2 linked regions of the Homo sapiens genome follow. The protein of the gene in region 1 purifies or fractionates together with the protein of each later gene. This does not show direct contact. Each region holds a gene or a part of one and is shown in the gene's direction. Other genes may lie near its edges.

Region 1 (7,593 bases):
ATATGATCTTGTTAGCCCCCGTGCAATCCCCCCATCAGGTAGGGAGTGTCCCGTCTTACAAGGGCCCACAGAGGTTCGGCAACGTGCCCACGGTCACAGGGCTTTGAGAAATAGAGCCACGACTGGAACCCAGGAACCCCATTGGTGACCACTCGATGGCTTCCCAGGATGAGGGTGGGGAAGTGCTTCTCCCAGAGGCCGGGGCACTTTTCCCCCTTTGTCCCTGGCACCGCCTACACCAGCTGGGCTCTGAGGACCACGGGCATGTGTCCATGAGTCTATGTTGGGCACAGTGGCCTCAGCCTCTCTCTAACCCCACCACCGGCCAGGCCAGTCTGTCTAGGTAAGACCATCCCCTGAGGAGCCGAAATGTCCCTGGAGGAGCAGAGGTCCTCTTAGACTTGTGTCCCCTGAAGCCAGTTCCCTGGGTCTCCCAGACTCTGGACCATAGCCGGGACAGACCTCACTCACCCTGCCAGTCAAAACATGCCAAAGTTGATTGTGGAACCTCAAAACGCCAGGCGGGGACTGGCGGCTACCAGGGCACTGGAGGGCTGTTGAGGAGGAAGGGGGTCAATAGAGAGGGATCCCCAAGGCATAGGTGAGGCTCTGCGGCTACTGCTCTATAACCCCCAACCCTGGGGAGGCCTGGGCAGGGGGCTGAGGATGTGCCAAAGGCGTGCCCCACACAAGGCGAGGTCAGGGAGAGAGAGCCCCGGGGCCTGCACGGCAGGACCACGCCCAGCGTTGTCGCCACGCTCTGGGCCCTGGGCCAGCCCCCCCATGGCGCAGGTGGGCACCGGAGCACTTCCCCTGGTGGGCCTCACACTCACTCAAGTTCAGGGTGGGGCCTGGGTCAGGGGGGCGGAGCCAGACCAGGGGCAGCAGCACGAAGCTTGCGGTGAGCAGCAGGCTCAGCAGGTTGAGTAGCAGCAGGAAGCGGAGGAAGGTGAAGTAGGACCGAATTCCTGTGCCGAAGAGGCCTGCAGTGGGAGAGCAGGGTGGGTCAGGGAGGCCGGGGCCGGGGCTGGGGCCGCGCTGAGAGTCCAAGGGCGGGCCCACCGGACGGCGTGGGGTGCCCGCCAGGCTCCCACCCGCCCGAGTCCGGAGGTACCGCTGACAGTCACCTGGGGGTGCTGCGTGGGCCCGAGGTTTGCGGTGCCTGCGGGCGGAAGGGGTGGGAGGGGGGAGGGGCCGATTGGTCGGGGGACCCGGGTGAAGGCAGGTGGGATGATGCCACTCTCCTTTTTCCGATCTGGGCAGTGGGGCTCCAGAGAGGGCAAGGGGAGGTGCGGGTCGCGCGGGTCCTACCCCCGATCTCGTAGAGCGCCCCCTCCCAGAGCCCAAGGCCCCGGGCCAGCCGCTGCGCTGCCTCCCGCAGGCGCCTTTCCACCGTCTGCCGCCGGCGCTGCCACCGCTGCCAGCGCAAGGTCTGCACCCCCGCGGGCTCCCGCAGCTGCCTGGACGGGGGTGGTGACAGGGGCGCCCCTGAGTCACCCGCCCTGCCCACCCGGGCCAAGCAGACGGGGTGCTCCCACACCATCCGACGGGGCAGCCTCGCAGCACCCCCCCCACGCACCGTCTGGCGCCCGCGTGGCACCCACCAGATGAGGCGCTTGTCCATCATGGCATAGGGCAGCCCGCGCACGGGCGTCCCAGAGCCGCGCAGCCGCTCCATCTCTGCCTCCCACAGCTCCTCCGGCTCCGGCACCCCAGGGGCCCGCTCCGATGACACCGACCGCGGCAGCAGCATCTCGGCGGGCACGGGTAGAGGCTGGGGCGCCGGGCTGCCGGTGGGGGGGATATGAGTCCCCGGTTGGATGAGCCTTAAGGCCTTGGCTATGGCCTCTGTGCACGCTGGGCTGGGGGCGGGCCCTTCCGTCCCCTCTGCGCCGGCGTCGGGGCCTGGGCTCCTGCAGCCCTAGGGTTCACTTGCCCGGGTCTGCCGCTCTGCCACCTCCGGGGCTCAGAAATGAGAGAGAATCCTGCTGCGGTCGAATTCGGGCCCAGCCCCGCTCCAACTCTCAGAGGGACACACAGCCACGGCCTCAGTCTCCCCATCTGTCAAATGGGGTGAAAGATCCAAAGGGCACAGAAAGTCTGGACCGGCACAGGCAAAGAAAGCCAAGACCTGCTGCACCCCGCATCCACCTGTGCCTGGGCCCACCGTCACCCCAAGGAGAGACAATTCCCTCTCTTCTCCACGTGGCAGTTTGCCCTTCCGGAAGAGCCTGTGTCCCAAACCCCACAGTTCCTGGGACTCGGCATCTGCCACATCTGACTCTGGATGTCGGGGGACCCCCTTCTGTCTTCCTTCTTGTGGTCCAGCCTCCAGTCCCAGGTACCCCGCGAGCCCCTGATGAGGACCTGTGGCTACAGCCCCAGCCGTGGGGACAGGAGCAGGGACCCACTGCTACCCTTGCAGGGCTCTAGCTGGCCCCCACAGCCCCTCACCCTCTGCATTCTCCCTCCACTGGACATCCAGCTCACCTGGGGACCTAGGGACCAAGTCCCTGGAGGAGTCCCCTTCTCAGACGACTCCTGCCAAGCCAGGCAGGGTGGTGAGGGAGCCCAGAGGAGGGGTCATATGACAGGAAACCCAGCTTCCCTCTCCACTACCTCCCTCCTCCCCTCTCACCCCATGGTTTCCTCTGCTTTAAACTGAGGCCAAGCAGGCACTTCCTGTGGGCCCCTGAGATGCAGAGGTGAAGGTGACAGGCGTAGGCCACTTGGCCTCCCAGGGAGCTCTGTGCATGCTGGGCTGCGGGTGGCCCACCCTTCCCCTCTGCACAGGAGTCAGGGCCTGGTCTCCTGCAGCCCTAGGGTCCACTGGTCCGGGTCTGCCGCCTGGCTGCCTCCAGGGATGTCCAGCCTGCAGCTGAGGCCCTCTCTGTTCAACTCCTTCCAGCCTGGATAGGCAGGACTTGACCTCGAGGCCTGAGCTGGGAGCCTGACATGGGTGGGGATGGGAACGGTGGGGGCACAGGGGCCAAACTCTTTATCTGCCGGCCTCACCCTGGAGGGTGTGATAATGACAGGATGGTGGGCTCCCCAGAACCTGGCTGCTGGGTTTCCAGATACTCTTGGTGTTACTGCTGTACTTCCAGCCCCTGTCATTGGCGTTATGGTTGTGCCAAGACCCAGGCCTAGCACCTGGCCGGTAGTAAGTGCTCAGGAATTGGCTCCATTCATGCTCTCCCAGGCTAGATGTTTAAGACATATCTTTGCCAATTCTCTGTCCTTGGGCCCCTGGGAAGCCCGCAGCCCTTCCTCTCTGCTCCCTCTCTACCTGCTATAGGGCCCAGTCATCTCAGGTCTGAATGTTCATAGCTTTTCTGCCTCTCTGCCCACCTCCTTCCTGGTTTCCAGAGTCCTTTCTGTGTGTCAGGCGCAAGCTATGTGCTGGTGCTGGGCACACAGTGGGCTGGGGTAGGAGGGGGCACAGAACCACAGATGTACATGTCAATAGGAAGTGGTAGGTGCTCCACCAGGGTTCAATCTGGGGAGGCTCCCCAGAGGAGGTGGCATTCATGCAAATTCAGTGTGGGTATGCAGGGAGGGGGAAGCAGTGGGAGGAGAGGCAGGGGCTGGGTCTCCATGCCAGGGTGCCACTTGCCAAGAACCAGCTTGGGGTAGCCATCTGAGGACCACACTGGCAGCTCCAAAAGGCCCCAGCCTTGACCCCTGCCTGGTCCTCGCTTTTGCTTGCCTGCTCTCCCCTGCAGCAGTGCCCTCTCCTGCCCTCCTGGGCCCCAGCTCACATTCACCCTGCCTGCTTCATGGCTTCTCCCCGCCAGGAATGACCCTCCCTTCCAAATGGGCTTGGGGTGGGGGGTACAATCTCAAAGGCAGTTTCCTCCATAGAGTTCCCAGGTGGACCACTAAGTCTCCTGCTTTGGCTGGGGGCACCCTAAAGGGTGATTAACTTCTCTCAGCCTCAGTTTCCTCATCTGTGAAATGGGAATATCAGTGCATACCTTCCTGGCTCATGGGGAATAACAGAAAACAGGGCAACGGGTACAGCACCTGGGGACAGTCACCTAAGTGTCAGCGTGTCCTCCTTTTCATCCCCTCCTCTCCACACAGCACACAGGAAGTGAGCCAGAACTCTTGCTAGATAAACAATGAACCCCGCCCAGGTGTCAGGAGTGGGAGATAACCAGGCTCCCCCCGCCGGGGTCGGGGAGAGTCAGCAGGAGGCTTGCGGGGGCGGCGGGGGGGGGGGCGCTGCCCAATCTGGAGTGAGATACTCTGTGTCCCTGGGGCTTTCGGCGGCATCTTACTTGGACGATCCCTAACCATGGGAAGCAGATGAGTCTGGAAATATTGCCCCTTTTTGGAACTTGGGGAAACTGAGCGTCAGAAAAATTGGGGACTTCAACCAGGGGCTGGAATGAATCCAGCCCAGCTCAGACCTCAGGAGGAGGGGTCGGAAGTTGGCAGGGGAGGAAGGCATAGTCGCCGCGGGGCGCCCGGAGGAGGGCGGGGGCGCCGCGGGCCGGGCCGGGTCACGTGATAGCCGAGGCCCGCCCCCCCCCCCCCCGCCCACGTGGGCCGGGAGGTGCGGCTACTCCCCCGGCCCCGGCAGACCTGCGACTGGCCCAGTCGCCCCTGGGGCCCTTTGCCACTCCCTTGGCAAGGAGAGCCGAGACCTCAGTTCCCGGCGGCTCTTGCGGGGCACAGGTGAGCCCTGGCTGCGCGCGCGGCCCCTCCTCCCCGGCGCCTCCCAGGTGAGCGGCCGCGATCCCGGTCCCGGGTCCCGCCAGCCCCAGCTGCTTCTCCTATGCGGGGACAGCGGCAATCCCCCCTGAATTCCTTTCGGCCTCTGGGGCCATTTGGCAGCCGAGTTCCCTCCCCGGGTGCTCCTGGAGCTCCCAGGGCTTGACCCTCCGGCTCGGACAGAGCTGGGAGCGGCAGGGGCGGGGAGGACAGTGCGGGGAGCAAAATCCGCAGCCCCCACCCAGGTCCCCCAGCCGAGCGCCAGGGCACGGGGAGGGGAGGGGAGGGGGTGTGGCCGGGATGGGAAGGGGCGGGGGACAGGGAGGCCGGCTGGACGGGTTCGGTGGCCCCAGAGTTGCAGCCGCTCTGGGCTCTGGGGCCAGGTTGCGGTTCTCCCTGGGTAGCGGCTGCTCCCGGGAAGCTCGCTGCCGGCTGGGGTGGGGGTTCCTGGAAACGGGCGCCACCCAGCCTCTCCCCACCTAGCTCAGGAATGGTGCGCCTGGAAACTCCGCTGGACTTGCCTGGGCCTCGGGGCGGAGTGCTGGGGCGCTGGGTGCCCGAGTCCCCGGGTTCCCTGAGCTTAGAAGGGCCTGTCTGGAGGAAGGGATTCCAGCTCTAGGGACTGGGTGGGGCGTCCTCAGCCCCTCTTTCGGCAGCTGTCCCGTGTTAGGCTGGGTGGGGCCGCCTCGGACCCAGCTCTGGGCTGGTTTTCCCACGTCTTTGCTCCTGCTGGAGGGAGGGGGTGGTGTGGGGCCTGGGCCCGAAGATGGCACCCAGGACACTGAGGGAGGGCGCCGTCCGGTCCTGTGACTGGCACCCCTGCAAGGAGCTGCTCTGTCGGGGCGCCCCCGGGCTTTGCCTGTCCGAGGAAAGCGCCCTTCAACCCGGCCGACTTTGAGCCCTGAGTTCCTGAGGGTGAGCGCAGGAGGAGTCCAGGGCAGAGGCCGGCAGGACTCGCTGGTGGCTGGGAGCTGAGTCCTGGCTCCACTCTCACAGATGAACGGGCCCCGAGCCCAGGGCCCCAGACAAGGCTGCTCTGGTTCCAGTTGTGCCGGGTGACGGCAGAGCCAGGACAAAGGAGGCCTGTTGAGGTCCTGGCCACCCCCAGCCGGCCGCCCTGGGATGATGGAATGCAGGGCAGTGGGTCTTCTGAGAACATGAGGACCTTGGCGCCCTGACGGCGGTGGCATGGAGTGACCTCTGTGTGTGGGGGAGGAGCCCCCTGTGCTGCTTCCGCCTGGGGCTGGTTGGGGGTGAGGGCTCCAGCAGCTAATTTCCTGCTAGAGGAAGTTCTTTGAGGTCACAGGGCAGACGCAGAGAAGGCCTACAGCCTACTCTGACCTTTCTCTCCAAAAAGGAGGTGTCTCTGTGCCAGAACCCTGGGCATGGAGATCCTGAAAGGGGCTGTGTCTACAGGCACCCTACCTCTTCCCCATTTCCCAGGGACTGGCGACATCGAGGAAACAGATGTGGAACTGCAGACCCCACACCCTTCCTTCCTCTCTCCCCTCCCCTGACACTGGAGGGGGCCCCCCATTCCATTCTGGCATGAGGCTTATTCGGTGCCTCACCATTTATGTACCTGGGGTGATAGGGGGGTGGGCGGGACTGTCTGGGCTGTGAGTGGCACCTCCTGTGGTTCCCCCAGGAATGGGTGGTGTGGACAGCTGCCAGGCGTTGAAGACCACCCCTGGCTCTGTGCCCCTGTCTCATCAGATGGGGGCTCCGGAGGTGGCGCCCAGGCTCTGAGCTACCCTAGGTCTGCAGACTAGCGGGCATTGGCCAGAGACATGGCCCAGCCACTGGCCTTCATCCTCGATGTCCCTGAGACCCCAGGGGACCAGGGGTAAGCGCTCTGGGGCTGGGGGCTGGAGGCTGGAATGTTCCACCCCCCACGGAGAGGTCACCTGAGCAGGGGCTGCTGGAAGGAGAGAGGTGGCTGGAGCCTGACCCCCCCGCCAACCCCCTCTGCAGCCAGGGCCCCAGCCCCTATGATGAAAGCGAAGTGCACGACTCCTTCCAGCAGCTCATCCAGGAGCAGAGCCAGTGCACGGCCCAGGAGGGGCTGGAGCTGCAGCAGAGAGAGCGGGAGGTGACAGGTGAGCTCAGGCCTGGATGCTGGGTGGTGTGGACCAAGACTTGGGTGCCCCAGCCCCTCAGGACGGGCCTCCCAGCTCTGCAGGCCTGGGATGGGGTGGGAGATACTGTGGCCAATGGCATCTCCAGGACCCCTGGTGAGTCTTTCTTGCTTTGTAGGAAGTAGCCAGCAGACACTCTGGCGGCCCGAGGGCACCCAGAGCACGGCCACACTCCGCATCCTGGCCAGCATGCCCAGCCGCACCATTGGTGAGTGGGACCCTCAGCCTCGGCCTCGGCCCCGGCCCCGAGTTGACCCCAGTCCCTGGGGCTGGGCTGGGCTTCCTGCCAGGCATCTCCCTGGGTAGTGGCTGCTCCCGTAGCTCAGAGCCAGGCCCAGGGCGGGCTCCTAGCCCATCCCATCTGCTGCCTGGGGGCCCAGCACAGCCCCATGTGGCCCTCGCTGGGCTCCAAAAATGACTCCAGAGTCATCACGGGGTAAAAATAGGCTTTCGGAATGCAGTGGTGCCTGAAGTCTTTGTTGAAAGGATTTTCCTGGGTCCTGGGAAGGGGTGAGGGACGCAGAGGCCTGTGGTGAGCCCATCCTGAGGGGAGGGAGGCCTGGCCCTGCCCGGCCCGGCCCTGCCCAGCTGCCTCCATAGGCCGCAGCCGAGGTGCCATCATCTCCCAGTACTACAACCGCACGGTGCAGCTTCGGTGCAGGAGCAGCCGGCCCCTGCTCGGGAACTTTGTCCGCTCCGCCTGGCCCAGCCTCCGCCTGTACGACCTGGAGCTGGA
Region 2 (7,754 bases), on another chromosome or scaffold:
CGCTCAGGCTGGAGTGCAGTGGCACGATCTTGGCTCACTGCAACCTCCACCTCCCGGGTTCAAGCGATTCTCCTGCCTCAGCCTCCCGAGTAGCTGGGATTACAGGGGTGCATCACCACACCCGGCCAATTTTTGTACTTTTAGTGGAGATGGGGTTTTGCCATGTTGGCCAGGCTGGTCTTGAACTCCTGACCTTAAGTGATCCACCCATCTCAGCCTCCCAAAGTGCTGGCATTACAGGCATGAGCCACCGTGCCTGGCCTTTATTTTTTGTAGAGATGGGGTCTTGCTATGTTGCCCAGGCTGGTCTTGAACTCCTGGCCTCGAGCCGTCCACCTGCCTCAGCTTCCCAAAGTGCTGGGATTACAGGGGTGAGCCACTGAGCCCGGACTCATCGTTTTTCTCGTTCATGTAGGTAAGCAGCTTGATAGACGATGACATCTGTCCGGTTTGTTTTAACTCCCCTGTGCCTGACATAGTGTCTGGTATCTAGTATTCTGCAAGGAATTTGCTAAAAGATTGAGTGAAATGGGCCAGGTGCAGTGGCTCATGCCTGTAATCCCAGCACTTTGGGATGCCAAGATGGGCAAATCATGAGATCAGGAGTTCAAGACCAGCCTGAAACATGGTGAAACCTCGTCTCTACTAAAAATACAAAAATTAGCCAGGCATGGTGGCAGGTGCCTGTAATCCCAGCTACTCGGGAGACTGAGGCAGGAGAATTGCCTGAACCCGGGAGGTGGAGGTTGCAGTGAGCCGAGATTGTGCCACTGCACTCCAGCCTGAGCGACAGAGCAAGACTCCATTTTGGAAAAAAAAAAGATTGAGTGAAATGTTCTTTCTCCATATCCTGCTATCCAAATCTCACCCATCATTAAAGGCCCCTCTCAAACCCCAGTTCTTCCATGAACTGCCCCATAACCCAGTCTAGTGCCATGACTCTTTTCTTTCTTATCTTCTCATGGTACCCAGAGCCTCAATTTCAGGACTCAGTATAGGCTGTCTTGGAGTCACTGTTTCTGTGACGATCTTTCCTATCCTCCTTAAAAATTATTGGATGAAAAGGAGTCTGCTTCTTTTCCATTTTGTCCTCTACAGGACCTGCAATATTGAAAGTCTTCAAGTACCACTTACTGACTTTGAAAAAAAATCACTACTGTGATCATTTGTCAAAAACATACGCATGAAGATTGTCATCTGCCAATCACATAATCTTAAATGAAAAAAATCTAATTTGTAAAAGTATGCAAAATGCATTTTTCAGAGCATGTGAAATTTCTTGTAAGGTATGAACTATGGACAAGTTGGTTTCTCTTACAAAAGCATTTGGACTGTGTGGACAGATTACAGAGAAAATGGAGCTAAACCCCAGAGAAGCCTTCTTCCAGTTACTGTCATGACTTTATCTTATGGAAGCAGTTGTCAGAGCACTGGACTCCAGTTGTCTAACATTTTTCCCCCAATCATACAAGTTAAATACAGAAAAGCATACAGAAGAAATCATCATGATCCTGCTTCTTAGAGGCCCACCGTTCATATTTATTTATTTATTTTTGAGACGGAGTCTCGCTCTGTCACTGAGGCTGGAGTGCAGTGATACGATATCGGCTCACTGCAACCTCCACCTCTTGGGTTTAAATGATTCTCCTGCTTCAACTTCCCGAGTAGCTGGGATTACAGGTGTGTGCCACCATGTTCTGGCTAATTTTTCTCTAAAAGTAGAGACAGGTTTTCACCATGTTGTCCAGGCTGGTCTCAGACTTCTGACCTCAAGTGATGTGCCCGCCTCGGCCTCTCAAAGTGCTGGGATTACAGGTGTGAGCCTCTGTACTCAGCCCATATTTTGATATATTTTCTTCTGGTGTTTGTCCTGTAGATATGTTGGGATTATACGGATGCTAAATTGCTTTTTTCATTTACTATTATATCAAGAGCATTTCTCAAGATCATAAAATATTTTTTAATCATGTGACTTTTTATTTATTTATTTGTTTGTTTGTTTGTTGAGACAGGGTTTTGCTCTGTTGCCCAGGCTGGAATGCGGTGATGCAATCTTGGCTCACTGCAGCCTCCACCTTCCGGGTTCAAGTGATCCTCCCACCTCAGCCTCCTGAGTGCCTGGGACTATAGGCATGCACCACTTACCCTGGCCTGATTTTTAACATTGCAAAAAATTCATGATTGTACCAAGATTTGTCCAAAACCCAACTGTTAGTCATTTATCCTTGCATGCTATTTTTTTTTTTTTACTGATCTCTGATTATTTTCTTAGGATACCCTCCTAGACGCAGAATTACTTGGTCATAGGATAAGAACATTTTCAAAGCCCTTAATACATATTTGTTTTAGCTCCTAGTACTAGGTCTATTACATAGTAGGTACTTAGCAAATAATTGTTGAATGAATGTACGAATGCCCTCCAGAAAGGTGGCGCCAATTTATACTCCCACCTGCAGTAAGAGAAAAGAGCCTTGTCTTGGTCAGTCCACATCACAATAGGAGTAATGATTATAGCTGGATTTTGGTTTCTGTGACTCTGGCAGAGAAATAATCTATTTGCCTTAAAACAAAGAAATGAAAGTAAAAAGTTGAATCCTCCCTAAATGACATATGGTTTTGCTTTAATAGACTGCTGCTTTTAAACACACTGGCACAAAAGTGGAATGGAGGGAGAGTTCTGATTATTTTAGGGCTGAATCATGAAGGTCCAGGATTCCTTCTTCACATCTCGCTCTATTAGATCTTGGCCCCTGGGACCAATCTCATGGCTACTTGACTCAACGGGGCTGCCCACCAATCCCAATAAGCTTGAGATCTGGAGAAGGGACCCTTTATGTATGATGTGGGCCTTTCCTGTGATGTCAAATTTTGGTGGTGGTGGTGGGATTACCAAGGAACTTTGTTCCCTTATCTGAAGTGTAGAAATTTAGTGGAGGCAAATTTAAGAGTTAGGAACCTTCCATTCTGTCAACTGTAGGGGAAGGAGGAAACTAATATTGACTTTGTTTTGTTTTTTTTTTGTTTTTCCGGAGACGGTCTTGCTCTGTTACCCAGGCTGGAGTGAAGTGGCATGATCATGGCTCACTGCGGCTTCAACCTCCTGTGCTCAAAAAACTCTCCCACCTCAGCCTCCTGAGTAGTTGGGACCACAGGTGTGAGCCATCATGCCCAGGTATTTTTAAAATTTTTTTGTAGAGACGGGGTCTCACCATATTGCCCAGGCTAAACTCCTGGACTCAAGCCATCCACTCTCCTCAGCCTCCCAAAGTGCTGGAATTACAAAGGTGAGCCATCATGCCTGACCACGGTTTGAGGTGTTTTTGTTTGTCTGTTTTTTTGTTTGTTTTTTGAGACAGAGTCTCACTCTGTCACCCAGGCTGGAGTGTAGTGGTATGATCTTGGCTCACTGCAACCTCCCCCTCCCGGGTTCAAGCAATTCTCCTGCCTCAGCCTCCAGAGTAGCTGGGTCTACAGGCACGTGCCACCATGCCCAGCTAATTTTTATATTTTTAGTAGAGGGGGTTTTGCCATGTTGGCCAGGCTGGTCTCAAATTCCTGACCTCAGGTGATCCACCCACCTTGGCTTCCCAAAGTGCTGGGATTACAAGCGTGAGCGATCATGCCTGACCACCGTTTGAGTTTTTACTATGTGCCAAGCCCCTTCCCAGTCTACTGCATTCCTTGTATTAACCTTTTCATACAAATAATATTATCTCCACTTTGCAAATTGGGGAGTTGGGACTCAGAGAGGTTGGGTAACTTATTGAAGATCACACAGCTGGTAAATGCCAGAGCCATGGAGATGATGGTCCTCCAATTCTAAATTTAACTCTTCACTATCCTGGAATGCTGCCCTAGGAGAGGGCAGTGTGGGTGAAATTTCTAGGTGTATATGGAGATGGGGGGGATGAGGTGGTGCCAGGATTATGGCTTTGGGTTCAGGCAGACTGTGGGCAGATTTAGGGCTGAGAAGTTGATCCCAAGGTTCTCTGGCTTGGCTCTTGGTTTGAAGTTCTTCTAGTCCATATGGTGGGATCAAAAACTCCCAAGTCTAAGGGATGTGGTTGAGCCCGCAGTGGGGGCCAAGAGTAGAGGCTAGGGGTCTCTGGACCATTTTATAGGGTCTCCAGTTCTTAGAGCTTGGGTCTGAGGGTTCTGGGGCCCAAGACCTCCAATTATGGGGTCCAGCTCTTAGGTGTTCAGGCCTGAGGAGCCACGTTCAAGAGTCCCTGTGAAGTTTCAATAGGAAGGGCTTGTTTCAGAAAGTCTCTGGGTTTGCAGGGCTCAGACTGGGGGTCCCATCCTAAAGGCCCTTTTTCTGAGTTTTAGGGTCCTTGGGCCTGGGGGATGAGAGAGATCCAGTTCTGAGGGTTTCAAGAGGTACGGTCCCCGAAAAGCCCAGTTCTGAGAGGCCTGGTTTGGAAATCTCGCCCTGAAGATTCCTGGATCCCAGGGCTCAGGACCAGGCGTCTCTGGATCTGAGGATCCTGGTAGTGATGGCTTAGGGTGGTGTTCCCTGGTCCGAAGCCCGGAGCTAAGGGCACCGGGTCTGCGGTGCGGCTGCGAGGAGCAGGGAAGCGCAGGCCCATGGCAGCCGCGAGGCGGAGGAGCGGGCCAGCGGGCGGCAGTGCTGGCGGCCCCCACACGTTCTGCGCTGGGTCGGCGCTAGGACTCCGGGGCGGCGGCCGTGGGAAGGGCGGCGCTAGGACCCCGCGGGCCCGGCGGCGCGTGGGGCGGCGCGTGTTGACAGCGGCGGCGGTGGAACCGGGCGGGCGGCGGGAGTCGGCGCCTCGGGTTCCTACCTCGCGTCCCTAGGCGGCGGCGGCCGGGCGTCCCGGGATGGCCTTCATGGAGAAGCCGCCAGCCGGCAAGGTGCTGCTGGACGACACGGTGCCGCTGACAGCAGCCATCGAGGCGAGCCAGAGCCTGCAGTCCCACACGGTGCGCGGCCCAGCGGGCGGGCGGGCGGCGTGGGGCGGCCCCGGGCCGCGAGGGGGCTGCGGGCTGCCTGGCGCGGGCCGGGCAGGGTCGTCGGACGGAGACCGGGCCACAGGGTGGGCGGCCCTGGCCGAGAAGGCTGTGGCGCGCCGCTGGGTCTGGGTCAGGGCCCCTGGGGCCCAGGCGAACGCTGAGGCCCGGAGGGGCCAAGGATGGGGACCGCAGCTCCCGGCGCCGCGGGGTGGAAGGAGCTCGGCGGCGACCAGGAAAGCGACTCCGAGTTGGGGGGCGGGGGCGGGGGCTGCGGGATTCCCGGGCTCACCTTGGACTAGGGGAGCAGGAACGAGACCGCTCAGGACCATCCACTTCTGCCCGCCGCCAGCCTTTTCCTTTTTGAGGCCGTGTAATTTCCTCCTTGCAGCTGAGGGTCTGGGTGATGGGGATGAGGGTGTGCCGGGCCAAATGAAGTGTGACTCCAGAGCCTACTTGTTGGGACAGCAGAGTGTAAGTGGCTGGGGTCTGCAGCCCCGTTTCCAGGTCAGCCGCTTGGCCCTGGTCCCGGGAAGTGGTGGGGGCGGCAGTCGGGGCGCTGTTAAGCAGGTGTATGAATGTGCTTCTCTAACTTGCTCTTTAGTGGGCAGTGGTAGCATTCATTTGAGTTTAAAATCCACTCGAGTAGCATAAAGGAGTAATAGGTCCTCATAGTAAACATTGGCAGGGTTCATTTCTGCTACATATACGGTCTTTTATGGGGCTTTAAAACCGTGGTTGTTTTCATTTGCTTGTACCTTTTTTTTTTTTTGAAAGGCCCACTATGCATTATAATTTCCAAGCAATAAATCTAGGAACCAGCAAGAAACCTGGAGCTATCAGCTAGTGGGACTTTTTTGGAAAAGTAATGAGTGAGGAGAGAGATTCCTTCAATTGTGATGTTTTGTCAGTCCACCGAATCAGATTCAGACTCAGAGGCTTGTTTGTTTACCATTGCAGTGTGTTTGGGGGGTCATCATCTGGAGGCTAAAGCTCACAATAGCCTTCTGTTTCTCTTTTCGTTCAAGCTCTTCTGATGACTTCAAAGAGACCTTTTATTCTGTTGTATTAAAGTGAGACTTTTTTGAACCTCAGTTTCCTCTTCTGACAGCCGTGCTTTGTAGGGCTTGAATTGTTCAAAGCATTCACTTCCAGTTAAGAAAATTATTATCTTTTTAAAAAGGGCTATTTATTTCACGCTGTGTGTCTTTAATCCTATTCTGTAGACATGTGAGAAGGCACATACAGGACAGAATTTGTTAAACTTGCTATCATTTGTGCCTAAAGGGAGTATGGCATAAGGGTTGAAATTTAGGATAGGGAGTCAAGAGTAATTCAGCTATTAAATTTGATTTTTGACTTGACTATTGGCAAGTAAGTCTTATAACCTTTCAGGGAATAGTGTCGAGTCCTTTAGGTTTATTTTGTATTGAAAATAAAGAGATAGATGTTTCTAAATACTCACAAATTACTTTCCCTAGGAAGCATTCATGATTTCTACAGCCCCAGCCCATGTGCCTACCCACACCTTAATCTTGATTAGTTTGTCCTGTAATTACTTCTTTACTTTTTGTCTCCACCAGGCTACAAGAGGAGGGGCACTTCTTCCTCACTTTTGAGTCTCATTCCCTGGTTTTTGATAGGATTTCAAATGTGTTTATCAAATGACTAAATAATCCAACTTCAACCTTACTATGCCTCTTTTTCTGTTTATGTAAAATGGTAATTGTAAACATTGAAAAAATAACTTAGAGATCAGTGCTTTAGCTAGGTGGCGAAAGATGTAATAGGATTCTGTTTTTATTGTAAGGGTGTGTGTGTGTGTGTGTGTGTGTGTGTGTCTGTGTGTGTGTGTGTGTGTGTGTGTGTAGAGACAGCGTCTCACCATGTTGTCCAGGCTGGTGTGTGTGTGTGTGTGTGTGTGTGTGTGTGTGTGTGTGTGGAGACAGCGTCTCACCATGTTGTCCAGGCTGGTCTGGAACGCCTGGGCTCAGGCCGTTCTCCTGCCTCAGCCCCACAAAGTGCTGGTATACAGATGTGAGCCACCACACCTGGCCCTGCAGATCTTTTCTTTAAAAAATAAAATAATTTAGGGTAGAAAATGGCAGTTCTTGTAGGGATGACTGACCACAAAAGACAGTGACTCACAGGAGACCCATAGAGGCAGATGTGGTAGAGTAAAAAACTGTAGCATTGTCTTGCGTAATTTTTTGACTGTTCTGTGTTCTTGTCATTTTAGCTGTAAAGTTTGACTGAGAAATGTTGCATCAGCCCTGAAGTTTATTGAGAAAATCTTACGCTGATGCAAACTTTTTGGACTGTTAGTGTCTTATGAGTAAGTCTTTTTTAAAACAGGAACTGTTGGAAATTATTTTGGAAAGAAGTAGTTGTTAAGAGGGGTATGTAGAAGAGAAAGGCACTGTTTTTTCTTGGGGAGATTGAAGTTGGCTTTCCAGCTTGGTAGCTGAAGGGAGATGGTGTTCCAGAAGTCAGAGCTCTACTCTCGCTTTGAAATGCTGAATCTCTAGGAAGTTACTCCTTGGCTGTAGACAGAAACATACGGAGTTAGAGACAGACTTGGGGTTGGAAGAGGCAAGACCTTAATACAGGTCTGAGCTGATACTTGCTAGTCATGTGATATAGGCTGGGCAAGTCACTTAAACCTTTTTGAAGTTTAGTTTTGTCATCTGTAAATGGGAGTAATAAATGCCTGCCCTGCCTGCCTCCCAAGGTTGTTAGGAAGATCAAATGAAATCATCTTGATGAAGTATTTGTAAAATGTATTC

Evidence for each region.
Region 2: the proteins of TMC6 (region 1) and PXK purify together in Homo sapiens (affinity purification with mass spectrometry; 2 studies listed by BioGRID and IntAct, with this or other methods). This does not show direct contact.

What each region holds. Positions count from the first base shown.
Region 1 is NC_000017.11:78,125,749-78,133,341, reverse strand, and holds the start of TMC6 (transmembrane channel-like protein 6), read left to right. Parts: upstream 1-4,586; 5' UTR 4,587-4,730; exon of another isoform or gene 4,731-6,435; 5' UTR 6,436-6,509; coding exon 6,510-6,565; intron 6,566-6,693; coding exon 6,694-6,818; intron 6,819-6,975; coding exon 6,976-7,065; intron 7,066-7,457; coding exon 7,458-7,593. Other genes in the region: TMC8 (transmembrane channel-like protein 8), read right to left, coding at 472-554, 834-983, 1,312-1,460, 1,605-1,753. UniProt on the Homo sapiens protein: Acts as a regulatory protein involved in the regulation of numerous cellular processes. Together with its homolog TMC8/EVER2, forms a complex with CIB1 in lymphocytes and keratynocytes where TMC6 and TMC8 stabilize CIB1 and reciprocally.
Region 2 is NC_000003.12:58,328,150-58,335,903, forward strand, and holds the start of PXK (PX domain-containing protein kinase-like protein), read left to right. Parts: upstream 1-4,742; 5' UTR 4,743-4,839; coding exon 4,840-4,941; intron 4,942-5,156; exon of another isoform or gene 5,157-5,400; coding exon of another isoform or gene 5,401-5,442; intron 5,443-7,754. UniProt on the Homo sapiens protein: Binds to and modulates brain Na,K-ATPase subunits ATP1B1 and ATP1B3 and may thereby participate in the regulation of electrical excitability and synaptic transmission. May not display kinase activity.